Regions from separate parts of the Homo sapiens genome. Here regions 1 and 3 are each linked to region 2. Evidence: fine-mapped expression QTL. A gene starts in region 2. Each other region holds a variant in brackets. All regions are shown on one strand. Distances are between the middles of the regions.

Evidence for each region. PIP is the estimated chance that this variant, and not a neighbour inherited with it, causes the effect. A credible set is the group of variants that fine-mapping cannot tell apart.
Region 1: its variant is the best candidate, but not a certain one, in a credible set for the expression of TPM1 in whole blood (INTERVAL, PIP 0.73).
Region 3: its variant is the best candidate, but not a certain one, in a credible set for the expression of TPM1 in whole blood (INTERVAL, PIP 0.58).

The regions. Positions count from the first base shown.
Region 1 is chr15:63,072,563-63,083,376 of GRCh38, forward strand. No RefSeq gene overlaps it. Among named protein-coding and RNA genes, the nearest start is that of TPM1-AS, 29 kb to the left of the region's middle. RefSeq lists enhancers at 6,188-6,865, 6,866-7,541. The variant T/C (reference allele first, on the strand shown) is at 5,027.
Region 2 is chr15:63,035,226-63,046,039 of GRCh38, forward strand. TPM1 (tropomyosin 1) reads left to right here and starts at 7,522. Exons shown (of 10, transcript NM_001018005.2): 1 at 7,522-7,718; 2 at 8,802-8,927. The coding sequence starts at 7,605. TPM1-AS (TPM1 antisense RNA) reads right to left here. Exons shown (of 2, transcript NR_147233.2): 2 at 10,809-10,814. RefSeq lists enhancers at 6,466-7,380, 8,294-9,207.
Region 3 is chr15:62,998,256-63,009,069 of GRCh38, forward strand. No RefSeq gene overlaps it. Among named protein-coding and RNA genes, the nearest start is that of TPM1, 39 kb to the right of the region's middle. The variant A/AGT (reference allele first, on the strand shown) is at 5,285.

The DNA.
Region 1 (10,814 bases), 37 kb after region 2:
TATATTTTCATTCAAAAGTATTAAATATCTCTGTAACTGTACTTCCATGTCTCTTAATCAGGAATCTCTTCTCCACAGAAAGACAAAGGCTGTAAGGCAAAGAATCCAAGCAGGGTCCCGGAGCCTGGTTTTAGGTCTCCTTCCAAAAAGCTGTCCCCTTGCTCACGGCAAATAAATGCACAGGTCTCAACCTTCCTACAGTTTCAGGACCCCTCGCCTCACCTCTGCCAATCCTCAGCTAGGAAAAAACCCTCTCTGCATCACTCTAGTCATGGAAGCCTTTCCTAAACCTGGTCCTCTTTCACTCGGGGAGCCAGATCTGGCTTCAGATCCAGACTCCACCTTTATGAGACTGCCTAACCTGTCAAGTCCCTAAATCTGAGCTGCTCCATCTTTAACATGGAGATGAGATTAGCACCTAGCTCATAGTTTATAACTGTGGGAGTCTAATCTATAACCACTTCAAGTACACGGCACAGTACCAGGCGCCTAGGTCTTGTTCCATAAGTTAACCGCTCGGCCAGGCATGGTGGCTCACGCCTGTAATCCCACCACTTTGGGAGGCTAAGGCAGGTGGATCGCTTGAGGTCAGGAGTTTGAATGAGACCAGCGTGGCCAACACAGCAAAACCCCGTCTTTACTAAAGTTACAAAAATCAGCCAGGCATGGTGGTGTGCACTTATAATACCAGCTACTCAGGAGGCTGAGGCAGGAGAATCGCTTGAACCCGGGAGGTGGAGGTTGCGGTAAGCCAAGATCACACAACTGCACTCCAGCCTGGATGACAGAGTGAGGCTCCATCTCAAAAAAAAAGTTAACTGCTGTGGTCCTCAACTTGCCATTTGTGCTCCAAAGACCACCACAGAAGATAGTACCCATCCTTGTGAAGCTAAGGGGGGACTAACCTTACCCCAAATTATGATGGTTTTTAACACTTTCGGATCCCATTTATGTGTGCTAAAGAACTTGTACTCACAAGGGTTATTTCACTTAAGCCTCACGTCACTGAGGCTTAGATACTCAGTTCAGTAGCTCCCAAGTAGTGGGGTTGGGCTTCAAACTCTGGCCCTGTGTGACTCCTGAGCCCTGTCTGGAATCTCCTTCCCCTTGTTTCAAACGCTTTACAGCAGAAGAAAAACAGTTTCTAGATAATAGATGAAAACAGATGAAGCCGCAGGTATAATTAGGAGAGGAGGAGGCTGGGAAGATGGAGGTGGAGTCAACCATTTAGCAGCTGACACGACCGTGTGGGAGTGGTTTAACACCTGACTTCCCCTCTGGGTTCCAGGGATCAGACAAGATCAGTTAATTATGAAGCATCATGCCAATTCGAAGAATGATTACCTAATCTTTCAGATTAATATAAAAAAGGAGAACGGCTCTGTCTCTACATGGTACACGCCTGGGGTATGACTGGGTGTGATAACCTCTGAACATGCCACTCTGTGAGGTCAAGGTACAGAGATTAGGACTCTTGAATATGGAAAGGCCAAGGCTGGAAGCTGAGATGGTCACCATTTGGAGAACCATGAGGTGTAGAGAGAGAATTCAAGATTCATGTTCTAAATTCCATTGCTGAAACTTAGCAGTCCCAGATTTCAGAATGAACAGCTGAACAGTTGCCCTGTTCAGAGTAAAACATTGTGGAACTCCACAGAGAAAGGACACAGGTAAAAACATAAGCATCTTCAAAAAATAATGATGAGAGTTCTACAGTTTGTTTTGTTGTTGTTGTTGTTGCTTTTTTGGTTTTTTTTTGAGACAGAGTCTCACTCTGTTGCCCAGGCTGGAGTGCAGTGGCATGATCTCAGCTCACTGAAACCTCCACCTTCTGGGTTCAAGCAATTCTCATGCCCCAGCCTCCCGAGTAGCTGGGATTACAGGTGCATGCCACCACGCCTGGCTAATTTTTGTATAAAAATAGAGTAAGAAAGTACTCTAAAAAGTAGAGACGAGGTTTCACCATGTTGCCCAGGCTGATCTCGAGCTCCTGACCTCAAGTGATCTGCCCACCTCGGCCTCCCAAAGTGCTGGGATTACAGGCATGAGCCACTGTGCCGGCCTACAATCAGTTCTTAAGAGAAAAAAGAAAAGCGCTTTGTGGATACATTCAGAACTTTTTGAGACTGACATTGAAAAGAACAATTCCCCTCCTTATTGTTCCTAGAGATGTCGTTAACAGAAACAAAATCTAATTTTTGCATATGCTGGTTTGTGTCCTCCAGAGTTCAATACTTTGGGCCTGATTTTTCTCCAGGAAAAAAAAATTATATAGATATAGATATAGATATCTGTCTTACTCAAGTATTTGAATGTGTGTGAACCATTTTTTCAACTTGTCAACACTATTTGTAGCTGGTTTTTTTTTTAAATCTACAGTCAGATATATATACAGGGAGAAAAAAAATCCGAATTCTCCAATCAAAACAAAAAGCACTAGGGCGTTCAGGGAGCCATCATTTCCAGAATTGGAGACAAAGGTTTGGAAAGAAAATAGAAATGTTGGGCAGTACAAGAAGTGTTCCTTCCATTATATATACTTTTTGACATTGAGGGTTTTCAGAGCTACATTCCTCCAACAGATGTCATAAATTTTGTGTGTCAAACAATGAATGAAACTATGTTGAGAGTTCACTAATATGAATGTAACTTTTGCCAAATTTTTGACAAATGGGCATCAACCCTGAGGAAAAGGCTGCTTTCTGCTGCCTGTGAGAGTTTTCTTTCCATTTGTTACCAAAGCCATGGAGAACCAAGGGTCGAGTCAAGGCCATATCAGGACCTGCCAAGGCTGTTGCCCTAAACTGAAAACGCTGATTCAGAACTGGAAGGAGCCTTAAGATCATCGAGGACAGAGAAAAACGAGACCTAGAAAGATTTAGTGGTTTGCTCCGAGTCATCCAGCCCCCGTCAAGGCGGGCAGTGCAGCGTGGGGCCTGGAAACCAGAGGCACTGGTTTTGCATCCGCTCCCTGCTCACAGACCGGCCCAGGTTAATGTTGCCATCTGGGCGTTGATTTCTCCATCCCTGAAGGAGGTGGTTTCACTGCCCCTCTCCACGTGCCCACTCACTTCCTCAGGGCTGAGAACCGAATGGGGCAATGTGTGTAGAGTCCCTCTTCTGTTCCTTAGCCCCAATCCTTTTTTTTTTCACCTGCATTAGGTCCTTAGGGAAACTGAAAGTAACTTTTTCCTTTTGAAATGAAAATCCCCAGTACCACTGCCCGGGAGGATATTCACTGCAAGGCCATGGTACCCCACAAGTGGCCCGGAAAGAAAGCTCAAGTCACAGTTTCGAAGTTTGTTTTTGAGTTGTTAATCACCTGCGCACAGGAGGCAAAGAATGTTTCAAAGTAGTAGATTCAAATCTCACATGGAAGCTAAAGGCTGGCTCTGTTGTAAGTTTCTGTTACTCCATTCTCAAACTGCATTTGGATTTGTTGCTTCATGGAAGCCAACAGAACACTGCTCTTAGGCCTGGCATCGGATGTAAATGAAGGCAGTTCAGCCCTTATTTATTCTAGAGAAGCCACGAGGCAGATCCTGTGGAGCCGTGGAATCCACTGTCTCCAGAGGGAAGCTAATGACCGGGAAGGTGAAAGATGCTTTGTCTGTGGCAGGGAAGCAGTTGTTGTGTCTCCGGAGGGGCCGGCTGGGCACAGGGGGGCCGGAGGAGCAGAAGAGTTGGCTCCTCTTGGCGGATGCTGCATGGGGATGGGGTCAGAGGGGACAGCACACATCATGATGGTAAGTCCTGGTCTGTTTTCAACTCCAGAGACACTCAGAAAGGATTTGGAATGCTGCCTTTCCAGTGGGACTCTTGGTTAGACTCATGACTCCAGTGTTAAACTCCCAGATGCCTGCACTGGTATAATATAGCCCTTCGGCCTTCTGGTGAGCTGGGATTCGATGGGCTGCCCACATCCTGCACCTCCACTCCCCCACCTCACCCCAAAGTCCACTTCCTCTATGAAAACCACCCTTCACAATGAAACACTTGCCAAGGAACTGCTTGAATCGTGCTGTGGTCAAGGACGCCTTTATCTGAAGTGAGCCCCATCACTATTCCCAAAAGGATTAAGTATAGTTGCCCAAAGCCCAGTGATGTAAATATTAGAAATGGGAACCCACACCCAGGCAGTAGGGGCTTTTGTTTTTGAAGGGGATGCTGGCTTCCTAGGAATGGCCAAAGCATACCTGCATCTCAGAAGCCTGAGCCAGCGGGAAGTGATTAACCCCTGGGTTACTCAGCTCGAAGCCTGTCATTCCCATGATTTGTTTTCCTGCTATCTTCACACAAAGCACTCCTTTCCAGAACACTCCGGGACTGTCTGCCTAGCACCTTCCGGAGAAATTAAAAAGAGCAAAGGCAGAATAATTTGCCTAAGAATAGGAATGTCAAGAAAATGTGCCTCAACAAAGAGTTGCTAGGCTCAAATCCTGGCCAAACTGTTCATCTCTCTTCAGTTGTTAACCCTCTACTTGAAAACTTCCTATCCGCCATGCCTCCTTTTTCTGGCTTTCGTTCTTCCCTTCTGGCTACAATTTTTTGTTACTCTAATCTCTTGTTCTGCTCACTTTCTCTCAGACACAGAGCTTCCATATTGTCTTCTAGTAACTAAAATTATGAAAGTTAAGATTCATAATTTTGCCTACAAGACAAATTGTATTTCCATTTAAGAATGTTTTACAGTATTTTGGGGACTGTATTTTGGGCTCAGATGGGCCGGAGGAGTAGAAGAGTCAGCTCCTCTTGGCAGATGCTCTGTGGGGCTGGGGGCTGAGAAGCCAGCAAACATCATGATGGCAAATCCTGGTCTGTTTTCAAGGTTGGGGGTTATAGGACAATACAGACAAAGTATAATAGACGTCTTGCCCTCAAGGAGTCTATGGAAGCAACTGAATATGTGCACAAACGCACTAAAAAATAATAAAACAGGATATGATTACATGGCAAATAGACAGTAAATGATACAAGACTGCATGGAAACAGATGTCATGCCCCCTTCCTGGTAGATTTCTAACCA[T/C]CTAAAACCAGTAGAAAAGGCTCTCCTGGGCATGCTCTATAATTTTCTCAGGGGTACTCCAGCCACAGGCAAATCACCACTCACCCCGGCCTCTCAAATCTTAGAAACAAGAGCTCTGCTAGTTTAAAAATGCTTTGGTTTTACTACTTACTCTGGCTACGAAATTTTTTGTTCATAATTGTAGCTTTTTTCTACCAAATTCTCATTTTAAAATCCTCCCCTCTTACCCACCTCTCATTCCTTGCTGTAGGCCATGTAGTTGTGTTCTGTTTGTTTGTTTGTTTGTTTGTTTGTTTTTAAACTTTTGGTCTTACCATACCTTTGCTTTAATCCTAGAGCATCTGTTAAGCTTTAAAGGAAAGAGCATAAATGAATGCACACATATACTCTTAGAGCCTATAAAATCAGCTTCCTACTCCACCAGGGAGGTCTGAAGGAGCCTTTGGTTTCTGGTAAAGCAAATGGATGAGGATCGCCGCTAACATTCACTTCTCCCACGAGAAGCCTCCCCAGGCTGATTGCTATAGTCGCTAGTGCAGACAGCGACCTGATCTGCTCAGGCTGCCAGACTTCAGAAGCCTCAGCCAGGTTCAGAGCCTCCCTAATCCTAATGGGCTAGGAGCCCTGGGTGTCTCCAGATAACCCATTTTCCAGCCTTCCAAGAAAGAGGAGTAGTGGGGCAGTGGGCGAGAGAGAATTGGGTTTCAGTGCTGTTTTAATGTAAACTGCTGGGGGCTGGGAGCTCCCCTTTTGCTCTCCTTGTTTTGGTTCCTACCCCAGAAACATAAAGTATTACTGATAAACATGGATAATTAAATTTGGATAAAAACTACTTGAACCTGAAGAGTTCATTCCAATTTGTATAACAGCAATTGATGTGGGTTGTGTATTTAAAGGAATATTTAAATTTCATGCAGCAATTTGCAAGTTCAAATGAAAAGCTATTTGGCACATTTGGATACTGGGTTGCAAGGGAAATAAGCAAAATGTACACATGAGGTACATGCCATCATATAATTGTGTACATTTTTTATTTGTCACAAAGCATTATAAAAACAATAGAGAAAAACTATGAAGGAAAAAAAAGGTCACCACTGGGAAAAAAAAAAACTTATTTTCCATATGTTTTGCCTGTGTGTTTATGGAAGGCTTTTTATTCAAAATTTTGGTTTTTATTCAAAAAACTTTGCATAAACATCTTCCTGTGTTGCTTCACCTAGTCTTCTGGTTAATGTGCCATAATTTGTTCTCCTCTTTTTGATCACTGGGTTTTTCTAATTTTTTGTTCTCACAACTAGGACTGATGGGAGATTTTTTTGTAATACAGATATTTTCTGACATGTAAGAAATGAAAACATACACTTAAAAAAAACTATTTCATTTAAGCACAGACATACCCTAAATATAGTGTTAAGTTGTTTCTTAACTATGTGGTGATTCCTGCTCCGGCCTGGACTCCAGCCTGGAGAGCCCTTTTTTGATTTCCAGGCCTCAGGTTCTTAAAAGAGAAGCAAAACAACTTTTCCCAAACTGGTGTGGTAAAGCCTTTAAGAAATCTAGTTCCGGCCGGGTGCAGTGGCTCACGCCTGTAATCCCAGCACTTTGGGAGGCCAAGGCAGGTGGATCACCTGAGGTTGGCCTGTCGGCCTGACCAACATGGAGAAGCCCCTTCTCTACTAAAAATACAAAATTAGCCGGGCGTGGTGGCACATGCCTGTAATCCCAGCTAATCAGGAGGCTGAGTCAGGAGAATCGCTTGAACCTGGGAGGCAGAGGTTGCAGTGAGCCGAGATCGAGACACTGCACTCCAGCCTGGGCAACAAGAGCGAAACTCCACCTCAAAAAAAAAAAAAGAAGAAAGGAAAAGAAATCTAGTTCCACACGTTATCCCTTTCCCGCTCCCTCATCTGTGCTGCTCCCCCAACAAAAACACACAAACTTGAGCTTTAAGACATGCCTTCACCGCAGCCACCCGGCTCTTTCTTGTACCCCTTGTCTAGACCTGAGTTGATAAAAGTGAATGATGGGTGTGTGGGCTTAGAGGCACTGCCTCGGGCCTCAGTTCTGGGAAGACCCTTAATTACTGGATGATGAACAGTGACAGAAGAAGGAAGCAGCCATATAGAAAACTTAACTGCCCTGCTAAAGAGGCAGCCTAGATAGTATGTACAATCCCAGCCTTCGAAATTAGACCAGAATTTAACAGCCACCTCTGCCATGTACTGGTTGTGTGACTTAAAGTAAGCTGCTCAACTTCTCTGCAATTATTTCCCCATCTGCAAAATGGGGATAATAATAATAGTACCCAACATCATAACGTTCAGGGCATGAATAACTAAGATACTGCATGAAAAGTTTTAGTATGGTGCCTGGCATAGCAAACTCTCAGTGATAGACAACTTCTATTGCCCTGTTCTTTAAATAGTCTTAGATCCCGGCAATCAGCCCGTAGAAGTCACGCTCCCCAGGATTCAAAGACAAGGCCGCCCCTCACCTCTTCCCTACTCACCTATCAGGCTGCCTTAGTGTGCTGTCATTTTCTCCTTCAAGGCTGCCTCTGATGTTCATTTCACCAGGATGATTCATCGGGATGGGTCAGGGCCAGTGGCGAGTTAGCCTGATAGCCCAGCTGGATCTTCCCCTGAAATCTGATGGAAGCACACTTCACCGCCCGTCAGGACTAAAGTCCGGCATTGGTGAGCAGTAAGAACAGCCCCTCTCCAGTGTGGGAGGAGGGGCCTCGAGTAGACCCCAATGACTGACCCTCATCAGCTCTCCAGGAAGTGCCTGCCCAGTGGCATCCAGAAGAGGTGCCCAGGTCCTGTGTCTCCCCAGGGCACACTGGGGTTTGCCACTGGGGTTAGGTTTCCTGGGGACTTCTCAATGACACTGTGAAAACCTAGCTCACCTCCTTGGTGATCGTACTCTCAGCCACTAAAAGGTTTCCTAGGGCACTTAGAAGTTGAGTTCAGACAATAATAATATCCTGGTCGTCTGGTGAAATCGTTAGCATCTGAGGGGCTGCTTTGCAGTACCCTCTGTTGGGCTTGCGGCTCCTGCCTTTGTATGTTTAACCTTTAAACAAGGGGGTTGGCAGAAGGAAGCAAGCTGTTCTGTCACAGCTGGTCCTGGCGATGCCAGAGGAGGCCCAAGCTGGAGCTTCCTAGTTAGCTTTGGCTTTTGCCTAAAGAGGATTTCAGGAATAGGGCAGGACACAGGGACCCAGCCAACACCAGGAATAAAAGCCAAGCGTCTACTCCATGCTTTTGGTTCTGGCTGGCCAGGGCATCTGACACCAGGGAACATCTTTCCTTTCACACTCCATTGTCCTGGGGCTTCAATTACATTCTTGACTGAGAGCCCAGGAATGAGGATAGCGGGCACTCCAGAAATTAACCTTAGAGAAGTGACTACGTGAGTTTTTAGCCTACTCGCCTCCCTAACAATGGTGCACACCATTGCTGCTCCAGGTGGAGGAGTCACTGCCACCTCCACTAGCTGAGCAAACATCCCTTGGCCTCAGATCTGGGATTAAAAGGAATCAGGAGGTCAGCTCCCCACTCATTAGAGCTGGATTATCCTACGAGGGTTTGTACTGCGTGCATAGACAAAAGCATAGCACCCAAAAGAATGAGACACAGCGACGGAATTTTGTTATTTTATATTTCAAAAAAAGGCATTGGCTAAGTATAGTGGCTCATGCCTGTAATCCCAGCACTTAGGGAGGCCGAGGCAGGAGGATCACTTGAGCCAAGGAGTTTAACATCAGCCTGGGCAACATGGCAAAACCCCATCTCTACAAAAAAAATATAAAAAATTAGCTGGGTGTGGTGGCACACGCCTGTGGTCCCAGCTACTTTGGAGGCTGAAATGAGCCTAGGATCAATTGAACCTAGGAAGTCGAGGCTGCGGTGAGCCGTGATCACACCGCTGCACTCCAACCTGGGCGGGCAACAGAGCGAGACCCTGTCTCAAAAAAGAAAAGGCATTGACAAAGTCATTATTGGAAAAATCTGAATGTATGTAGTCTTATTTCCATTTGTTTCATAGTTTAGTGATGTTTTATCTTGAGTTACAAATCCCTTTGGTGCAAAGGATGATGTCTTATGCTAGCTGCACATCTCGTCGGTCTTATAGCTCACCACCACAGAGAGGTGAGCCCTCCACAAGCCCCTGGTCTGTGTCCTTGACTCTCCCAAGGCCACCACCCCACCTTTCCCCACACTCAGAGCCATCAGCATCACCACCACCATTGATCGTATGAAGACATGCAGACCACTTTTATACTGCATGTGCTTTGTTGCAGGTACTTTTGTGAATCTGCAACACTGAGAAAAACCCAAGTTCAATCCTTAGTTCTTCCCAGTTAACAACTGGGGGATTTGAAGCAAGTTACTCAGCCTTTCTGAATTGCAGTTTACTCAGCCTCTCTGAATGTCAGTTTCCTCCTCTGTAAGAGCCTGCGCCTTATAGTTGTGTTAAAGAACAAAAGCTATCCCAGATACTTGGAAGGCCGACATGGGAGGAGTGCTTGAGGCCAGGAGTTCAAGACCAGCCTGGGCCATAAGCAAGACCCTGTCTCTACAAAAAAAAAAAAAAAAAAAAAAAGTTGTTTTAATTAGCCAGGTGTGGTTGTACATCCCTGTAGTCCTAGCTACTTGGAGCCTGAGGTGGAAAGATCACTTGAGCCCAGGAGTTGGAGACTACAATGAGCTATGATCTCGCCACTGCATTCCAGCCTGGGTGACAGTTGCTCTGATCCCCAGAGCAACTCTCTAAAAAAAAAAAAAAAGAAAAAGAAAGAAAGAAAAAAGGCCAGGTGTGATGACTCACATCTATAATCCCAGCACAGGGAGATCGAGGCAGGAAGATCACTGAACCCAGGAGTTGAAGACAAGCCTGGGCAACGTAGTGAGACCTCATCTCTACAAAAATAAATAAATAACCAGGCATGGTGGCATGTACCTGTAGTGCCAGCTACTTGGGAAGCTGAGGCGGGAGGATTGCCTGAGCCCAGGAGGTCAAGGGTGCAGTGAGCCACGATTGCACCACTGCATTCCAGCCTGGGTGATGGAATGAGACCCTGTCTCTATTTAAATAAGTAAATAAACAAACAAATAAATAAAAAAGAATAAAAGGTAAAACATGTCTGAGGCCTGCTACAAGGCAGATTACCTATAAATATTAGAGTTATTCATGCCCTTTCTTCACTCCTGATCCGCCTAAAAAGAAGATAGAGTAGGTCCCTTCTCTAGGGAAAAGGAACCACAACCACCACCATCTCAGCTTGAGGGACTTGTAGCGAAGCTTTACCCTATGAACCAACCTCGGGAGTCTCCGGCCTCCATTGCCCCACACCTTGGAAGGGGAGGGGCTTCTCTGGAGAGAGGTTTGTTTAAATGTCATTATTTTCTGAAATCATTGCCCAATTTTTCCTATTTTACAGTCAGCCATCCACTATGCATCAGGTGAGTGCGTCTGAGAAGCCTATAGCTGAGGAGTCCTCGGGGAATGAGGTCATCTGGAAACGCAAGCCTCCCTCGGTTTCAGCAACTCATGCACGTGAAGACAGGCCCCTTCCCCAGGCCCCTGTTGCTGCGAAACGGTGTGGGAGGGTGAGGAAAGGTGTAGAGAGGCACTCCCCACACTTTAATGAGCGCAGGAGCCCGTCAGTGATCTTGTCCAGATGCAGATTCTGTTGTGGTGGGGGCTGGCTCCAGCCTCTGCGTTTCTTGCCAGCTCTGGGTGATGCCGGTGCTGCTGGCCTGTGGGCCACACTTTGAGTAGC
Region 2 (10,814 bases):
GGTTTTATTCTAACTTCCTCCCAGGGCAGATGTCGCACTTCTCAGCCAGGATCTATAATAGCCCCACAGCTTAGGAAGGAACAAGAAGAGGTAGAAATGAAATGGCTCCCAAAAGAAAAACCTCCCTTGGGTGGTATTTTAGGACATTAGCTCAGGCTGCCTTGTCCTCAGTCATCTCAGTGGCATTTAAGTAGCCCCTTGGGTTACAGATCACGGCAGGTGCTGGGAAGTGAAGAAGGCCATGCTAAAAATACTGGCCTCTTCTGGAACTCTGCCGGCAGCCCTGATGGAGCTCCCTCCTCAAGCAGCAGTACCTCAGCAAAAGAACAGTTTCCTCCGCCTTAAGCAGTAAGAAAAGTCTGGCTCCTTCCTCCACTGAAGTTCCTGAGGTAGAATGGTCCTCAGGACAAAATACTCAGAGAAGCATTTCTATTGAGGAACAGCAATTTCTATCAAAGCAAGAAAACAGGTTCTCTTAAGAACTCAGGGTCCCAGAAGAAAGTGCTAAACCCTGGGGTACAAGGTTTTGCTTTTAGCACACTCATCCTGATGCTGTCATGAGAGGTGAGTAGGAGGAGGTAACGAACTTGTAAGTGCTTTTTAAACTACACATATATAAGAGAATATCACCATTCTTCAGACAGCTAAATTCCCCCACATATAGAGCTTGATTAAACCTACATGTTAACCAATTAAACCTTGGGGAAATGGGTTTTGCTAGTCTGCCAAGAAAGGGTCTTTACAAAACCAAAAGAAAGCCCATTGCTTACTTTTAATAACCTAGGCCCACCCATAGGCCTCTAAATCAAATAACCTCCACTGAGAATTAAGCTGTTAGCACTAGGTCTGGCATAGGTGCAGAAACAAAAGTTTAGAAATCCTAATCTTGAATTTACCTAACACGGCTGCCTCCTAGAGCCTGAGTGGGTTGTAGCGAGACCTCAAGTAGAGGAGAGGCACCTGGGCCATCCGCCTCCATGGGCTTTTTTTTTTTTGCATCGAATTTCATGGTCTGCAAAGTAAGGGTGGGGCTTTACTTGCCATTCAGGAGGTTGCAAAGGTCACCTCCACATATGTTCCTGTTAAGGACATCAGCAGAAACTTGAGAAGCAAGTATAAAAATATAAAAATGAGCAGGTGGCATTCAATAGGAAAAGAATGCAGGGTTTGCTGGGAAGTCATGATTGAAACCAGTCCAAGGCTCCGACGTGGCCTTCAAGGCTCTGGACTGCGAAGTCTGTACAGACGCTTTCGTTTCTGCGCAGGCTGGGTCTTAAGGAGGCACTAGTTGCTGTTTTGCCCCAAATTTTCTCTTCATTTTCCCCCCAAACATACTGCCTGGGTTAACTGGTGGCTCATTCCTTTGCAAACCCAAGGGTTTTAAGGGAATCAAGTGTAGATATCTATTGATTACCCCAAATCTCCATTAAAGCTACTGGGAATAAAATTAACATACTCACCTTTCTATCTTCAAGATGTCCTTATTATCCCTCCTTTGGTCATAAACACAAGAGTGGAAAAAGATTTTGGTGGCTTAACAACATTTTCTCACTAGGTTCTCCCATCACTGAGAGTGGGTGGGAGGGTTTAGGAGCCCAGGCTTCTGTTGTGAGCTGGCCCATGCAGGTCAGGGCAACCCTTCAATCTTAGCCTCATTAGTATCATGTTTTAACCACGTTCTGCGTGTAGAAACGACCTTAGCGACCCCCCCCTTCCCCTTATAATGTATTGCTTTTAAATATGAAATAAGGCCAGGCGCGGTGGCTCACGGCTGTAATCCCAGCACTTTGGGAGGCCCAGGTGGGCAGATCACCTGAGGTGAGGAGTTCGAGACCAGCCTGGCCAACATGGTAAAACCCCATCTCTACTAAAAATACAAAAATTAGCTGGGTGTGGCGGCGCATGCCTGTAATCCCAGCTACTCGGGAGGCTGAGGCAGGAGAATCGCTTGAACCCGGGAGGTGGAGGTTGCAGTGAGCGGAGATAGTGCCACTGCACTCCCGCCTAGGCAACAGAGCAAGACGCCGTCTCAAAAATAATAATAATAAAAATAACATAAAATAAATATGAAATCAAACTGAACCTAAAAACAGGCTGGGAATGAATGAATGAAAAGGGCATTGTTACTGAGAGTTCAGATATCTGCATTTTTGTTCCTGCACTGCCACCTCCCAGCTGAGTGGTCTTGAACCAGTTACTGCCCTTGGTGTGTGTGGTTTTGTTTTGGTTTAGGTTTTTTTTCTTTTCAAGACAGGATCTCATTCTGTCACCCAGGCTAGAGTACAGTGGCACACTCACTGCAACCTCAAACTCCTGGGTTCAAGCGATCCTCCTGCCTCAGGCTGCCGAGTAGCTGGGACCGCAGGTGTGAATTACCATGCCCCGCTAATTTTTAAAGTTTTTTGGAGAGATGGGGGGAAGCTCTACAAATTTGCCCAGGCTGGTTTTGACCTCCTGGCTTCAAGTGATCCTCCTGCTTTGGCCTCCCAAAGTGCTGGGATTACAAGCATGAGCCACTGTGCTCGGCCTGGTTTTCTCATGTACAGAGTGAAAATCAGAGAACTCATCCTGATGCTGTCATAAGAGGTTGGGAGGAGGAGGTAATGAACTTGAAAGTGCTTTATAAACTATACAAACATGAAGGAATATCGCCTTTCTTAAGACAGCTAAATCTGCCACACTTGGAGCTTGATTAAATCTACACTGAGTTGCTACTGTTGAGAGACAGACAATAAGAGGTAAGGCAGGAAAACTCCTATGCCTTTTTTTTTTTGTACTGGGACAATCATTTTGCCCATGCAAACATTCCAGGTAATAAGCGTGCTCAAGGGCCTCTCCAAAGAATCAGGACCAGCTGTGTGTTACTAAACAATAAAGGCAGGCACGCCTTGAAAATGGCCTAAAGACCTTTCTCAGAGATCCAAACCAGCCCCACCCCCCGCCCCCAGGAAGCATAGCATATTTTCTGTGAGGCCTTGATGGTAGCATCACAAACCCTTGGGAAACACAACTCCCAGTGTTTGAGGAGAGCATGCCGTATCTTGTTCCAGGGACACTGAGTCGTGAGCATAAAACGCTGCATTCCAAAAGAGACGAAGAAGCAGTCGTCTCTCCATTTAATTATAGATTCTTCACTTTCCCTTAATTGCTTCAGTCAGCACTGTTGACTCTGGGGGAGTCACAGTACACCGGCAGGGCTATTGCTGTTAAACAAGGGGTGACTATCAGGTAATGAGGTTTTCATTTTGTTTTTTCAAACAAACAAACCCTGATGTACATATTCAAGTGGGCATTCCTGTTAAAGGTGTCACATTGGGAAATGATGCTCATGTTGACTCTCCTTTGTAACCAAATATTGATAAATGTAGTATGACACATACAAGTGTTTTATGGAAGGAAAAAGGCAGCATATTTAATATTAAAGCTTTCCTAGAAAACCCGAGATATGTGATCCTCATAACTATAGAGGGCCCCAGGTGACCAACTGAGCTGATGGTCATGCCATGGGAAATACATATTAAATGACTCCCAAAGAGAGGGTTCTCCCTGCATCATACATAGACACTTTTCCTACAGAAAAAGATCCATGTCTTTTGTCTGCTTCCCTGGATCCCATAAGCCCTAAATGTCTTGCACACAAAAGGTGTCCAATAAATATTTGGAGACATTTGTCTTACCCTATCACAATACTTATATTCATTCTTCATGAAATAAGACACAGAGCCCATATTTTGAATGGAAACAAGATCTTTTGAACCTAGATTTGTTACTTTACCTTCCCAGACTTTCTTGTAAGTCAGTAAGAAAGCTGGACTTGTCAGTCATAAAAAAAATTGTTCAACAAACATTCATTGAGAAATGACTGAATACCAGGCACTGGAGAAATCTGGAAATTCCAAGCATGTTCGTGGTGATCACGTAGAGCCTCTAGGCCAAGAATGTTGAATGTTGTGCAGGCTGTCATGCCACCATGATTTGGTAAGCTTTTTACTTTCAAGGAATATAGACTCGCTTATGTAACCTCAAGAAATACAGGGGGTTATTATAAGGACCCCTGGAACTGAAATTTGGTCATATTCTCCCAATCTCTTTCTCTAAATGGTGCTTCTGTTTATCTTGATATGCCTGCTTCATTCTTTCTCTATAATCACTTCTCTGCTTTTTCATAACTTAGCTGATGCATGCCTATTGTGCTGTATTAGTCAGGAGAAGCTAGTTATGCTTCAGTAACAAACAACCCCCAATCTCAGTGGCCTAAAATAACAAAGATTTATATCTTATTCTCACTACATGTCCACCAAGGGTTAGTTGGGGGGAAAGAGGGAGCCACTTGAAAACCCACAATGACAGAGCAGCCACAGTCTTGAAAAATGAACATGGTTAGTCGTGAGCTCTTTAAGTATCCACCAGAAGTCATTTCTGCTCACGTTTCCTTGGCCAAAGCAAGTCAAATGGCCACAGCCAACTTAATTGGGTGGGATGTACAATGCTACCACGACATTGACTGGGGAGAAAACCTAAAAAATTGTGAATAACCTTAATCACTTTTACACGTGGCATTTCCAGCCCGACACTGCAATCCCTTTTTGTTTCAGCAGCCACGGCTAGTGATTCCCATTTTTCACGTTCCTTAATTCAAACTGCAATGAAAGAAGCTGAGTGGCCCAGTTCATCATTGCCTGACAAGCCACAACGCCAAGTCCCTGGTTAGTATTTAGATCCATCCTTGAGTTGTGGCCAATCAGCCAGAGAACAGGGATACACACTACATACAGCCTGTGACTGTCCAGCCTACCTCTGGAGAGGACCAGGAGACCTGTTCACTACAGAAGAATGTGTTATTTAAGTCATGACGTTTTGCTTGTCCTAGCTTTGTCTTAGCCCTTGGTGACAAAAAGGTCATGGGTGGTATAGCCCATGAAGCTGACTTGGGCCTGACACATGGCAGAATCTCAACATGGGTTAAAAGAAATGATTGAATTCAGGACCTGCTATGTTAACCCATCAGTCTAGAGATCAATGATGTGGTACTAAGGGATTTTAAAAGTTAGCGTTGTATAGCTCCATTTCCATACTTTGACACCATAGGCTTCGACCTCTGAATATAGGCCCTAGGTGAGGGAGTCTGGGAGAGGAAGAGGTGAAAAGAAGAGACATCGATGGCTTTAAACTACACAATAAGGTCTGAATGTCTGAATCTGGAATTCAAGGCCCTTTATCATACAGCCCCAAGCTTCCTTTCCAGTCTCATGCCCCCATTCACCCCCAAAATCCTACTGTCCAACCACCACCAAACATTCCTTTTTCTTTCCTTGGCGCATACAACGGCCCTCCTCTCTAGCTAACTGCTACCCTTCCTTTAAAATCAGTTTAAAAGCCATCACCTTTTCAGAGAATTTTTTCCCATCTGCTCTGACCTAGTCATTTCTATTTCTTCCTCGTGTGAATTCTTAACACCTTTCTCATGCCAAACACCTGGAGGACATAGACCTGTGCTACTCATTCTTTGGATTCCAGAGCCTAGTACCTGCCTAGTATATAGCAGGTACTCAACAACCGTGTGTTTAATAAATTGCTTGTAGCATGATTTCATTTAAGGAAACTTTAATGAGTCCCTCGGCTACATATGGCACAGTAAGAAAAGAAAAGTCAGTAACATGTGGTCCCGCAAGGAGTTTCTCTAGTTCAGTTGCCTCTTTTTATAAGTGAGAAAAAAGGCTTAGAGAGATTGTAACATGGCTAAGGTCACACTGCAAGGAAGTGACCAGGCCAGGTCTGGATCCCTGGAACTGACTCCTAACTCCCTATTCTTGCCTCCTCTGCTGAGCTCCAACCTGGGGAGTCAGCTCCCTGGAGTCCACGCATCTGGATATCGTCCACATGCCTGGAACTTTGTCACTGTTCCGGTGGCTGGGTTGACACACCGTGATTAAAGGGCTCTGGTCAATTTCTGTGCCACGCAGCCCCTATGCTAATGGTCAGATCTAATGTTCTGACCATTAGGTCAGTGTATCTTTTCCCTCCTGGGCAGTTAGGTTAGTGGAAGAAACCCGATAAAATCTTGGAGAGGAATTTGATCATTCTCTGAAGGACTTACAAGTTGTTTGGCCTGCCTAATCTGCTCAGATACCGTCCGGGGAATATTTGGTAACCATGCAGTACAGACTGTGAATTATTCTGTGGGGACTATTAACAAGACCCTCACCAACCCTGCCTCAGCTGATCTCAGGGCTTGGGGGCAGCCCCCTCTCCTCCCCTCCCACTGAAGCTCTGAAAAAAAGCAGCCTTTCCCCCTTGGGAGATGGGAGGAGTAGTTAAAAATAAGAAGTGTTGGGGGAAATCCTCCTCCTTCCAAGCACAGCTCACACGGCAGAGCCTCCTCAGAGTTGCGGCTGCGGATGCAATGACTTAGCCAGGTTAACGCCGATCCCATGTTTTCCGAAACCTGGCACCTAAGCATCTAACATGGAAGGCCGACTCCCTAAAATCAGTGCAAGAAAAATGATAACAAGTTATATCTGGAGGGACCTCGGGGATTATCTACCCGCTGGATTTAAAGTTGAGGAAGCCGCGGGCAGCAAACAAGGTCTCACAGTTGCTGGTGGCAGAGTAGAGACCACAGACCAAATTGCCTGAGTCTAAACTCAATGTTCTTTCCCCTTAGACTGCCACCCGCACACACACGCACACATGCACACCTTTTTGGAGGCACTGCACAGCAAGCACAGAAGTACGCCACTGAGTCCTGTGTCCCTAAAGTATTTGACTGTCCCTCCGCTGGGGGAAAGGGCAGGCAGAAAACAAGACTCCGTGTGCTGTCGCTGTGCCGCCCCCTGCCTCTCTGACCCGCGCCCGCAGAGAAAGTCTCAAGAGCCGCCCCAGGCTTTCTCCCACGTTCTCCCTTTCTCTGCTGCAGTTGAGTTTCCAGAGCGTGAGCGCGCAGGATGACACCTGGCTGGCTGAGAGCTGCCGGGGAGGCGCTGGCGGGTGCCGAGAGCGCACTGACCCTGACGCGGGGTGCAGCACGGCTGGGAAGCCCCCGGGCCTTTGGCTAAGCGCGCCGGGGGACGGCACAGGGGGGCGACGCGCATCCACCACCTGGTCCGCGCTCTCCCGGCCTCCGGCAGCTCAGGGCGGGCTCGGTTGGGGACCCTAATGGCTGGGTGCCGGCCCTGGGAGAAGGGCACGCGGAGGGCGGAGGGTTGCGCCTCGGCCCCGGCTCGGCCCCAACGCCCTCTCCCTGGCGCGCAGGTTTAGAAACAGGGCGGCCTCTCCGGCCGCCGCCTCGGCGGCTCGGGTCCCCATATATAGTCATATCCACCGTCAACTGGGAGGCCGGCGGCCGGCAGCGAATGGGCGAGCGGCCCCCGCGGGAGGAGCGGGGAGGGGGCACGGGGCGGAGGGAGGAGAGGAGGAAGGGGGGCAGGAGAAAAAAGCTTTTCCAAAAAAGTATTGGCTGTCTTGAGGAATGCGGTCGCCCCCTTGGGAAAGTACATATCTGGGAGAAGCAGGCGGCTCCGCGCTCGCACTCCCGCTCCTCCGCCCGACCGCGCGCTCGCCCCGCCGCTCCTGCTGCAGCCCCAGGGCCCCTCGCCGCCGCCACCATGGACGCCATCAAGAAGAAGATGCAGATGCTGAAGCTCGACAAGGAGAACGCCTTGGATCGAGCTGAGCAGGCGGAGGCCGACAAGAAGGCGGCGGAAGACAGGAGCAAGCAGGTCTGCGCCTCCCCGGCCCTGCGCCCGCGCCCAGAGCGCCGGGACTCGAGCCTGGCACCCCCGGCTGGATCCCCACCCCGAGGACTCGGGGAGCCACCACCCTACCCCCACCACCACCCAGGGCGGCCAGGGCGCGCGTCTGGAAAGAAGGAAGGGAAACGCAAGAGCCAGGCTTAGTCTAACTTAGTCTGGTCTGAGGACGCTTATTTCCCTTCTCTGGTTCCCATGGCCCGCGAAATCAAGTCCTAGAGGCGCTTTATTCTCAGGACTGGGAATCAGTTTGGGGGAGGGAGGAGGACACCCGGTTCCTGGGGACGTTTGAAGGAAGGGCGAGGGATGGAGAAAGGGGGTCGAGTAACTCAAGTGTTAGAAGTTCGTTGACTTTTGACTGGGGAGAAAGGAACCTTAAACTTGGGGAGGAGAAGGGAGTCCTGGAGTTGTTACCTAAGAACAAAGATGGGGCGGAATGGAGGCTACAGCCCGAAAGCCAGGCCAGCAGTGGCGTTCTTCTGTGTCCCCAAGTAGTGGACTTGAGCCCGCTGAGACCTCGGCAGGAGTCTCGTCCCAGGGCAGGTGGGTGTGCGGGGTGAGCCGCGGAGCGGTTCCAGCTCGGGTAAAGAGGAAGTTACCTCGGGTCCTTTGCACTCCAACTCGGCGGCGCCCCGAGCCCGAGGGGCCCCAGCCAACCCGACGCCCGTGTGTTGTGTGTGTCTAACACCCGGTCCGTGCCGGCCGCCCGCGCCCGCCCGCCGCTGCCCCCAGCTCGAGGAGGACATCGCGGCCAAGGAGAAGTTGCTGCGGGTGTCGGAGGACGAGCGGGACCGGGTGCTGGAGGAGCTGCACAAGGCGGAGGACAGCCTCCTGGCCGCCGAAGAGGCCGCCGCCAAGGTACCCGGGGCGCGCGGCACGGCGTGGCGCACGAATGGCTAACTCTTTCTCTTTCTCTCTCTCCCTCCCTGTCTTTCCCTCTGTCTCTCCCGCTGTCCCTGTCCTTCTGGTTCTGTGCACCCACACCCCTCCCCTTCGGGATCACGCTGCCTGCTGCACCCCCCTCCCTCCCTGTACCCCCTGGCCAACTCCCAGCTGGAAGATGAGCTGGTGTCACTGCAAAAGAAACTCAAGGGCACCGAAGATGAACTGGACAAATACTCTGAGGCTCTCAAAGATGCCCAGGAGAAGCTGGAGCTGGCAGAGAAAAAGGCCACCGATGTAAGTGCACGCTCACACTGCTTCCCTCACCTCTTGCCTGCGTGGCCACTCCGGGGTCACCACAGGGCTGGAGAGCAATGAAGGAAGTTTACCTTTTCCTGCTGGACACCTGCACACAGCCCTGCCATGGCCCAGAGCATTGGATGCCGCCTCTGACTGCTACTGCACACATTCATTTATATTTCATCCACTCCTCTCTTCTTCTCCTTTCCTTTACCTCCCTGGGGGTGGAGGTGGGTGGATGAGAGGCTGGGAGAATAGAGCAGCTGAAATTGGACTCTGGAGGTGAACTTCACCTCCCTGGTGGCAGAAAACCCTTGAGGTGTCATCACCAAGGTTTGTGTAGAGAATGCCAGGTTTTCTTCACTTTCTTTCCTTTTGCCGTTTCCAGTGGGTGGGAAGTTCTGGGTTTGGTGGTGGGTCTAGTCAGGGTTCAGAGAACCTGGCCTCTAAATGAAAGAAATGACACAGCGGTACCTTTACTTAGATGGCTGCACTTCATGGTGGGGCACAGAGACACTTTGAGGCTTCCTTTCTCATTAGTGTAAGCCTTAATCCACCCCTTAAGATCTGCCTGGGAAGATGATACTTGCTTGGGTCTGCAGTCTGAAGGCACTAGATCCAGAAAGTAAGCTGTGAGTTATATATAGCTCAGTGCTTTATATGGTATAGTGAGCTAGCTGCCCCCTGCCCCTCCTGCTGGCCCCGCCCCCACCTGTCAGCCTTCTGACAACCACCACATAGTTGCAGGGGTGATGCACACAGCTAAGGCTCTCCTAAGCTCTTTGTCCACTGCCCTTTGGAAGCTTTTTAATTGATAGCTTGCCTCTTCTGCCTCGGAAAGTCAAGCCAAAGGACCAACTTCTTTTCACACCGTTGGATTCCATTCTAAAAGCTAATTAAGCCTAGAGGCCCAATTAGAAAAGAATTCCTTGGGAAGTTGGTAACAATTCCAAGAATGTGTGAGCACCAGGGAAAGCTATGCCAGCAGTTGAAACACCGAGAGCAACAGCAGACTTTTTTATATGAAAGTAACATGCAAATAACTGAAGGGTCTCAGGTCTTGAAATTAGTGAAGTCTTTTGTAGCATGAAAGGCTTGAGATGTATATCCAGGTGTGCTTTGTAAATGAGAACTCCAGAGACGACATTTAGGATCTGACAAAAAGAAATTTTCAGTGAAAATCAAGCTTCCTGGAAAGGGGATTTGGGGGGAAGCACTGATTTCGCTAAAACATTTAAATTCTAAACTACCTGGCTTTGGAAAAAGAGCCAAAAACCATATATGACTCTGAGCCTACTTTGTATAATGCAGATCAGATGCCTGCTCTATATATGGCTAAATGGAAGATGCCTGCCTCCCGCAAATTCTCCAGCAGGACGTTTATTTAGCTTTTTCAAAAGAGCTGCTAATAGATCAAGGAAAGATATTCCTTATAAGGAAAAGAATGCAGAGAATTTGAAAATAGCCCAGTAAGACTGAAGGCAAAAGAGGGAGAAAAAGGTTACTACAATTCTTAAGGGAAAAAAATAGGATAATAATTATTGTAACTATGTAGTGCTAACATGTCTTTATTGAAAAGTCTTGTTGAAGGGAGCGCTGGAATGGGGTGGGGCAGAAATGGGAAAGAAGTTATTTAAAGTCAGCTGGTGTGGGAAGCAGCAGGGGAGGGAGCTTCTTGAATCTTGTTTTGGTTATTTTTCCCACCGGGAAACTGCCCCTAAATCTGGCATATATGGCTTTTTTGATAGTGTATTGATCACATTCCCTTTTAGGACACTTTAGGTTGTCTGGAGTTTGGAGCCCGTAGGAATATTGAAGAAGTTAGTGAAGAAATGCTATACAGTCATTTGTTGATTAATGAAGGGGGATAAGGTCTGAGACATG
Region 3 (10,814 bases), 37 kb before region 2:
AGGGTGCTAGCAAATGTCCCCTTCCCCTCACCCAAGATTTCTACACCTACCTGCAATCATGCTTTAAACTCCCCTCAACAAAGTCACATTTTTACAACCATACAGAAGTTCAAAGGGCTGTTACCCTGGGCTGGTTAAGTCAACAGGTATTTACTGGTGCTGCAACTCCACACTCTTTAAATATCTCTCTGGCTTTCCACCTGTCACCTCTATTTTGATGACTGCCACATCTGCCTGATGAGCAAGCCTCTTAGCTGTTTCAGGTATTTCCAATTGCCAGCAGGACATTTACGATGGAGAGATATAGTAGATCTTTATTGTAACAGCGAAAGTTCTGGTGTCTGAGTGTCTGCGTTTGGAATCCTGTTCCACCTCTTACTAGCTATGACCTTAACTATTCTTCGCCTCATGTTCTTTATCTGTAAACTGATAATATGAAAGTGCAACCTCATGGGGCTGTGATGAAAGAAAAATACTCATGCCTAAATCTCTACAGCAGTGCCTGGCACACAGTAAGCATGCGATGAAAACGAGCTGTAATTATTACCTCCAGTCAGAAGTTCTACTCCCACCTCAGACTCTTATGTCCAAAACAGAGAGTTGGGCCATTAATTCTGGTCCTGTTCCTCTACTAAGAAGCTCTGGGTGGCACTTACTTAACAGACCAGAAAATGAGGCCCACGGTGACAACATGACGTGCTCAAAGTCACAGAGCAAGCTAAGGAGAAAGCTGGGGTCAGGATTCCTCATCCAGGGCCCTTCTGTCACTTCCTATTGTTACTGGGAAGTGTGGAGTCTTCGGTTTTTAGTCCTTCTGGAGGAAAGAATTTGGCTAAGAGACCAATTAGTAAAGTAAGCAAAAGGAAATAAGAGTAAACTCCAAGAGAGGACTGGGCTCTTCCGGCTGGGAGCAGCCCTGATACTTTTGTATTGCAGTTTTTATTATGCCAGACTGTTTCTTTAAGCTCCTGCCTCCATCTTAACACTCCACCTTTTTCTTTGTTTAGTTTTCTGCTTTTGTTTTAAGTCTCCACTTTTGCTCCCTCCTAGTTTTCACCTAGGTTTGTGGAATTTCCCTCACTGTCATTGATACACTTGTGCAGGGCCAGGTAATCAATACGAACCTTACCTAATGGTGGCCTTGCTCATGTACCGCCACCACAGAAGGGTCACAGGGGGGTTACAACTGTACTTACTGTGCCTGTGGATTTCTTAGGAATATTTTCTTTGCCCTTTTTACCTTTCTATTAATACATAGCTAGCTACATTTTGACAGGTTAACTACAAAATTACAAGACGTCTTAAGGAGCGTTTGGGGGCACTTTTTCTGCATTGGCATTTTCCCTCCTCTCTGTTTATATTTAACATACATGTTTTAAGTAGTCTCTGGAACATAACATTTTCCAAAACTTCCTCCCCAGGGGCTCTCTTTTTTGTTTATGTCTAACTATTCATCTACTCTAACAGTATGTGCCCCCTCGCACCAGCCCAGCCACCCAACAGGAGGCTGCCGGCACCTGCAGAGAGTCCCTGAAGAACAAGTTAGACTTGGTACCAAAATCACCCCAGCCACTTATTGGAAATGTAGATTCCTGGCATCCTCCTATTAGATTCTGACTCAGTAAGTCTAGGGTGGGGCCCCAGATCCACATTTTAACAGGCACAACCAACCCTGTACCCCCACCAACTGGCTTGGATTCAGATGGTACCCACTTTGAAAAGTGCCTCTCAAGGGCGAGTTGACGCATGTGCCTCCACTAGAGATGAAATCCTGAACAGGGCCCAGTGAGGCCCTCTGGCCAGCCCGGGCTGCACGCCTCGCAGACACGCTTGCGGGTGCAGTTACTGGGCATGGCTGCAGTCCCTGAATGGAATTTCAGAAATTTGGTCACATTCTTTCATACTCTCATCCTAGAAAGGAACACCGCCCTTTCAGACAAAGATGCACCTGTACCCCTGCAAAATCAGCAGGACATCCAACCCCAGGATTACCATTCCACTGGACATTGTTTACTGCAATGGGAATTCATCGGGAGCTTGTGGGATTGTGGGTAATCTTATTCATAGCACCTGCCTCCTCTGTGGGTGACCTCATCAAAGGCTCCCGAAGCTTGTTCCCTCTCCCATCCATCCTGCGACTGACACTGAATATTAATACAGCTTCAGAAGCTTCTGTCCTTGCTCTCCTATAGCCAGTGACCATGTGGCCCTATGTTCCTCCCCCTCTCTAATCTGGGCCGTCAGACCCTTTCCAGAGGGAGACAATCAAAGCAGATTGGAAGCTGTTTGAAGAAAGAACAAATAGCTGAAAATCAATTTGCAGAGATAGTAGCAAGAATTACAGTTCTTTTTGTCTGCTTATTAACGGGCTCCAGCTAAGTATCAAATGGGAGAAGAGAATGCATTCCCAACACAGTAAGTGGCTGATTTGGAGATGTTATTAAAAAGAGTTGACAGAATTCATTCAGATTATGACCAATTTAATTTTGGAGGGCTTTAAGGGTTCTGTTTACTTCTCAGCTCATGGCTCTCTTGTGCCCAGAACTTGTACCCCAGGCCTGTGTTCATTCATTTCCATTTCTGAATTATCACAAGGACACGGAGATAACAAGGTCTGGTGACCAGAATATGGCTGTGGGAACTAAGAAATACTGTGATAACTGTCCTACAGCAATCTGGGGTTGGCCTTTGCATCAGCAGTGTGGCTGGCAGCAGGAAACGCATACTGTGAAATCACAGAGAACAAGTTTCATCCCCAGATCTGCTGGTCACTGGCTGTAGGGCCTTGGACAGGTCACTTAAACTATCTGAATCTCGAAGTTCTTATCTGTAAAATGGGCATTCTAACATTGAATTTACAGGGTTATTGTGCTGATCAAAGGGCATAGTTAGCAAATGTCCTTTATTCCAAATGTTGACCAAGATATACAATAAATAGCTGTTATTATTTCTTTTCTCTATTTTCTTCTTGGTAGCACAGAGATAGGAAGTGATTGAGAACTCAATCACTTCTCAACAACAGAAAAGGAATCACTTTCAATATAGTAGAAGGGGAAATGAAATAAAACCTATTCGACTAATCCAGTAGAAGTCAATAAAGCAGGAAAATAAAAAGAGAAGGAAATATAAAACATGTATTTAGAAAACAAAAAGTGGTAGAAGTCGGTCAAATATCAATAATCACAAGAATTATAACAGATTAAACTCATCTGTTAAAGGATAAATTTTCAGATTAGATTTAATTTTTTCATTCATTCATTCAACAAATAATTATTAAGCACCTACTATGCATACTAGGCAGTGGTCTAGGCACTGCAATCCAGCTAAAAGCTATTCTAAAAGACACATTTAAAACCAAAAACAGGAAAGGATCAAAACCAAAAGATTAAGAAAAAATATTCCAGGTAATACTAACTAAAAGAAGTTGATCTTGACAATATTAATTTGAAACAAAATAAGCCTTAAGACAAAAACTTGGCAATAAAAAGGTCTTGATAAAGAACAATTCACCAAAAAAAAAAATATAGTTAACCTGAACCTGTGTAACCTTACAACACAACTTCGAAATATATAAAGCAAAAACCGACAAAAAGATATTATTGACAATGAATAATCAAAGTGGTAGATTTTAATCACTTCTCTCAGAAAGCATTGAATCAGACCAAAAAATTGTGAAGGATACAGCAGAGTCGAACCACAGTTATTTATGAAAACTTGCACCTCAAAAATAAAGAATAAACAGCTATTCAAGTACATACTTACAAGAACTAACCATGTACCCTAGGCCACAAAGAAAATACCAAAAGGCATCAAAGAATTGATATTATACAGATCATATTCACAAACCTCAGTGCAATAAAATTATAACGTCAGTAACCAAAACATTTCCACACAACCCATGTGTTAAGAAAATTTCTGAATGCCCCTCTAAATAATTAATGGGTAAAAGGAAGAATAATCATGGAAATTATAAACTATAACTTAATAACAATAGAATATTATATAGCAAAATAGTAAAGAGTAACATAAATATGGTTACTGTCCCACAGACAACTCCACAGCACAGGGACATCCCAAGACTAAGATACCAGATGGGAACCCTTAAAACTAGGGCAAGTGAACAGAAGAGTTTTAGAAGGGCTGAACAAGACTATCTCTCAAATAGCATTTTTTTTTTTTTTGAAACGGAGTTTTTCTCTTGTTGCCCAGGCTGGAGAGCAATGGCGTGGGCTTGGCTCACCGCAACCTCCACCTCCTGGGTTCAAGCTATATCCTAGTCATCTTCATCTGTGTAGAACCACATACGGTAGGCATTCAGCAAGTCTTTGTGGAGACACCTTTGGGGTCTGCACCCCAATGCTACTTCTTTAACTGGCTGGAGCATTTCAAACCGTGGTCTGCCTGCTATGGCTAGAGGGAAGATACTTACCCTGGTTTTTAGGGGTGTTCCAAAAAAGCTCCCACCATTGCTGGGCCAGAGAGAGCCAGAAAGCCACATTCCTGCCACATCATGCCCCCATCCAAAACACCGCCACAGTGCAATGACACCCCACTGGGGACCACTTTAAATCAGAGCCCAAGATTTATTTATTTATTTATTTATTTATTTATTTATTTATTTATTTATTTTTGAGACAGAGTCTCACTCTGTCACCCAGGCTGGAGTGCAATGGTACGATCTCGGCTCACTGCAACCTCTGCCTACCGCATTCAAGCACTTCTCCTGCCTCGGCCTCCCAAGTAGTTGGAACTACGGGCCCCCACCACCATGCCTGGCTAATTTTTGGATTTTTTAGTACAGACGGGGTTTCACCATGTTGGCCAGGCTGGTCTTGAACTCCTGACCTCAGGCGATCCACCCACCTTGGCCTCCCAAAGTGCTGGGATTACAGGCATGAGCGCAGGATTTTTAATAGATGTCATTTTCCAGTCTGCCCCCTGGAAGTCTGGAAATGTAGAGGTTTGGCCTGAATCCTGTCTGGAAATTGGTGTTCACCTGCTTTTGCAGAAAGGAGTAAGATTTCACTCTGGGCAAGGAAAAACCTCATTAAAGGCTCATTTATCTTCCTGGGGAGCCGTTTGCCTGAAACGAACTGAATCTTAAAATGCAAATTCTTTCTCAGGGAATGAGCGTGGCAACTGAAGCTGCAATACCTGTCAGAATGATTTGAGAGCAATTCTTTTACTATTACTATCATCATTATCATTATTATCATTATTTCAACCCAGCCATTAGGTTAATACTATTAAGTCAGCATTTTCAGCAAATTGTTAGTGGCGTGAA[A/AGT]GTGTGTGTGTGTGTGTGTGTGTGTGTGTGTGTGTGTGTGTAGGGATTACAGCTGTCATCATTTCTATCCTGTTGTAAGGTTTAATAATTTAACCACAGGTATGTGCTCCAGGCTGAAAGCCGATGAGTGAGAAGGAAGCAGGGAGGAAGGGGGGTGCCCAACCATACATTGTCCCATTAATATGAAGGTAATCAGCATGACTGTTGGATGAAGTAGAGCACGGTCCATGAGGACGCAATAGAGCACATGTGTACACATCAGCATCTCAGCACTTTCCATGGACCCTGGCCCTCTCTGTGGCTAGGCATTGGTGGCAGTCCCAAGAAGCCTAAGATGAAATTGACTTTAAAAAGTGGAAGCAGCAATGTGATTTGTATCCCCCGGGAAGTATGGCTTGATTTATTACTACATCCCCAATTACCCAGTGCTTGACAGAACTGGTCAAGCAGGGGAGGGGGCCAATAGTGTTAGTTCCCTTCCATGGAGATTCATGGCAGCGTCACTGAAAGTGTGGGAGTGTTGGAGTCAGCTGAACCTGAGTGTGAATCCCCGCTGTGTGACTGCACAGGTGACTTAACCTCTCTGGGTCTGTTTCCTTATCCACAAAATGGGGGCTGGAACCCTTTCTCCTAGGATGATTATGAGTGTTAAATTAGAAAAATTCAAGGACTAGCTCACCGTATGCACATGCATTATAGGCACTCAGTCAACAGCTACTCTGCTGCTAGGCTGTTCTGTTCCAGGCTTGTTTCCTAGCTCCGGCAGGGCCCAACTCAGTGCCTACCTCAGGGCTCCAGCTAGGGCCTTCCAAAACCTCCATGGCCAAATGAACTGTCCTGAAGACATCCAGGAGGAGGCACCCCACCCCTGGGGAATCTCTTCACTCTCTTTCCCTGGCTCTGGGCAGTAATCTGAGATGTCAGGCTGGGTGTTTCTTTTAGAGGACAATGTGTCTTCAAGTACTGCCAGGGCAGTGATGAGCAGGTTGTGCATGGGACCCTGGGGGACTGTATTTGGGTCTCCCTTTCCTAGAGACCCCCTGTCAATCTTCAGTGTTCCTCAGGAGGCACTCACCTCACATCACACCCCACTAAACACACACACACACATCAATAACAAGAGCATCAACTTCTTTTTTGGAAACTTTGGCTCCAACTAAATGAATCAGGGCCATCATCACAATATCCCTGTCCAGAAAATGAACATAAAGATACATGAATAACCTTGTCAATGGTTTAATTCCTCCACCCTGAAATTTACTATTTAAAACTTGGAGATAATAAAGACGTAGAAATTACAGGGGGAAAATGATCTACGAACAACCTTTGGCTAACATTTAGCAATATCTCTTGCAAGTCTCTCCTTTATGCATATTTCATTTTATATAATAATGATCAACTTAGATGTTTGATATTCATTTATGTGTCCTGCTTCTCTCACCTAATTTTATAGAGTGAGCATCATTTTAATAGTTGCATGTTATTCTCTAAGAAAGGATACGCCATGATTTATGCAACCACCTCCCAATCATTGGAATCTCAGATTGCTGCCAAAACATTTGCTATTGTAAATGGCATTATGAAACAAATCAAGCCTTTTCTACTTTGAGTTCCTTGTTGGTTGGTTGGTTGGTTGGTTTTATTTGTTTGTTTGGGGGTTTTTTTGAGACAGGGTCTCACTCTGTCATCCAGACTGGAGTGCGGTGGCACTATCATGGCTCACTGCAGTCTTGACCTCTTGGGCTCAGGTGATCCTTCCACCTCAACCTCCCCAGTAGCTAGGACTACAGGTGCTTGCCACCACACTTGGCTAATATTTTGTATTTTTAGTAGAGACGGGGTTTCATCATGTTGCACAGGCTAGTCTCAAACTCCTGGGCTCAAATGATCCACCTGCCTCGGCCTCCTGAAGTGCTGGGATTACAGGCATGAGCCATCGCACCCAGCCTGCTTTGAGGGTTATTATCTCAGGAATTATTCCCCGGAATAATAAGTATAAGGTTACCTGTTATAAGGCCCCTAATATGTATCACCGACCTAATTTCCTAAAGAGTTATATCAATGTATATACCCCTAAACATTTGCTCATGATCTTCAAAGATATCCACTCTCACCAAATAAATAAATAAATAAATAAACTCAACATCCTTAGAAAATGTCTCAAGTAGATGGCAGAACATTAAGCCATCACTTCCCAAAATGTGGGTCCCTCCCATGCCACTGTAGTATAGGAGATATTAGAGCACGAGTAAACTTTTTTTTTTTACTTTAAGTTCTGGGATACATGTGCAAAACGTGCAGGTTTGTTACATAGGTATACATGTGCCATGGGGGTCTGCTGCACCCATCAACCCGTCATCTAGGTTTTAAGCCCTGCATGCATTAGGTATTTGTCCTAATACTCTCCCTCCCCTTACTCCCCACCCACTGACAGGCCCTGGGGTGTGATGTTTCTCTCCCTGTGCCTGTGTGTTCTCATTGTTCAACTCCCACTTATGAGTGAGAACAGAGCATAAATAAACTTTTAGTATATATTAGAAAAACTATGAAACACTCAAAATCCGTGTTTCTTTAAATATTATCAGGCCTTGGCTAAAGTGTGGGTTTAAGGGTTTTTTTTGTAGGTGTGTTGAGTTCAAACTGTACGCTACTATGATAAAAGCTGTAAACATAGAGCAGGAAACTGCCCTGGTCTGTCAGGCAAAGCACAGTCCTGCCCTTAGAAAGAACAGGGCAAGGCAAGGAAAACTGAGTGAAAAACACTGGCTTACATGCACACACACACACACATACACACACACACACACACACACACATACACGCACAGCCACATGCTAATGCACAGCCCTTCAGGGTTGAGGGTGAGGTGAGGGCAGCGTTCTATGCTATTATCAGGCATTGTTGCCTTAGTGAGAATGAGGTGTCTAAGGGAGCAGAGAGGCCAGAGCATGCCTTAGGGTATTAGACTCCGCCATGGGGGATTAGGGCATGGGAGAAAGGCAAAGACAAGAACAGGCAATTCAGAGGGAAATTGTGTAAACTACTTTTTCCAGTTTCACAATTTTGCCTTGAAAGTCAAGTATGGTCGAAGAAAAGCCAGGCCTGTTTCTCTGTTGTTCAAACGTCCAGGCATGTGGCAAGAGCTTGAGCTTTGGCTCAGCTAGACCTGTGCTCACGTCCTGGTTCTGCCACTCTGCAGCTGTGTGAGCCTCAGTTTCATCACCTTTGGTGGGGATGGTAATAATACTTATTTCATAGCACCACTGGAAGAGAAAGGATTCAGTGCCTAGCACACAGACAGGCTCCCACAGATCCCAGTAGTAGGAGTCAGGGGGAGGGGAGGGGAGAGCTGTAGTAATGTCGAGTGGTAACACTGAGGGAGGGAAAAGAGAGGGGGCATGATATAGTGTGGGGTAGTGTAATGTTGCCCTACCCAATCTCTTTCAAAGTAGTCCAGCAAAGAGAGAGGCCCGACTAGGGAATGCCACATACCCATCAACTTCCAAGAGCCAGTGCGACTGGTAAGAACTATCGAGAACCCAGAATCCAACTGTACTGGGTTGCATAGTGTCCCCCCAAACTCATGTCCACCCTGAACCTCAGAATGTAACCTAATTCAGAAATAGACTCTTTGCAAACGTAATTAGTTAAGGACTGAGATGAGATCCCACCAAATTTGAGTGGGCCCTAAGTCCGATGGCTGGTGTCCTTATAAGAAGAGGAGTGAACTCATGGAGACACACAGAGGGAGGAAGGCCACAGGAAGATGGAAGCAGACATTGGAGTTATGCTATTATAAGCCAGGGAATGCCACGAGCCACTGGAACCCATAAAAGGCAAGGAAAGATTCTTCCCTAGAAGCTGTGGAGAGCATGGCCCTGCTGACACCTTGATGTCTGACTTCCGGCCTCCAGAACCGGGAGAGAATAAGTTCCTGTCGTTCTAAGCCACTCAGTTTGTAGTAATTTGTTACAGCGGCCACAGGCAATTAACAGACCAACCATCTCAATTCACAGAGAAAGAAAGCAAGTCCTAAAGACGACAGTCGCCGTCGACCCACAGAAAGCTATCAGCCAAACAGGGGCTAGAACCCAGTTTCTCGGCCCTCATTCGGGGCTCTTCTCCCACTTTACAGAATCCTCCAAGTCTGTGACATCGAATAGGACTTCACATCTAGATTAGAGCCAGACAAAAGGCCGATTTTGACAGGGCCGCTCACCCCTCTGCGCCTGTGTCCTCCCCAGAGAGAACCCGGTGAGTAGAATTCACTTTTCCTGATCGTGACTGACTGCTCAGTTCTAGGTAAGAGCTCTAACTGATTAGTCGGGCAACAGGTGACTGATGAGTTTGCTTGTCAGCTGTCATGACAGAGGAAACCCCAGTGAGCTCCCTCCCCCGCTGAAACCAATAGCAAGAGGTTCATCTCCATGTTGCTCATGCCACATGAAGGTGCTGCATAATAAATGGGAAAAAACCTAATAAATAACATACGATTTTGATATTGACTCAATGGGACTTTGAACTCAATATCTGTTGAGTCAATGAATGTTGTTCAATAAATATGCCCAGACATTCCTTTAAAAAGGCATGGAGTTTTCTCTTCTACATATTAATAATAGTTCCATTTATTGAGCATGTACTATGGGCCGAGTATTATGCTAAGTATATCAGTCAGGCCCTTATATACTTAGTATAATACTTGGCCCATAGTAGATGCTCAGTATACCAGTTTGATGTATCACATGCTCATATATCCCTAACTGATATACTTAGTGTATATCAGTTCCTTTATTCAACTCTCCTCAAATTACCTGAGTGTTTAACTTGCTCCCTGACTGACATATACTTAGTAATAGTATATATCTAAGTACATATAGTAATAGTATGTATCTAAGTATATATAGTATACTAAGTATATATCAGTCAGGGAGCAAGTTGAATAGTCATATCAGGTAATTTGAGGAGAGTTGAATAAAGGAACTATTTACAAAGGTGTGGGTAGTGTGGGGAAACCCCATAGGCGCATGCGGTAGCCCAGGGTGGATAGTGCCAGCCATTACCTCCTGGGCTGAAGGATAAAAGGTGGGAGACAAAGACAGGTATGTGGAGAGGGCAGTGTGACAGGAGCTGAGATGGGGTCAAGGGACGCAGCCTGCGAACAGTGCCCAGAAGAGAAGGTGCTGGACTCACCCCTGTCCCCCACTACAAGGTCAGAGGGGCAAACGACAGTTATCCCATCCTCTCATGATTGGATCTGGTTTGTGTCATTTAATTGTCTCGATAATCCTATAAAGTAGGTACAATTATCACCAGCCCATTTTAGAGATGAGGAAACTGAGTTAAAAGAAGAAACAGGTTGCCCAGTTGTGGCAATCAGTGGGCCAGGATTTCAACCAAATCTCTCTGATTCCATAGACCATAAAGTCTGCAGGATAAACTTGCATCATGCCATAAACTTGCTATGAAATTGGCAAGATTTATTTTTAAAAATAACTTTATAAAACTGGATTAGCTATTCACCTTAGCTAAA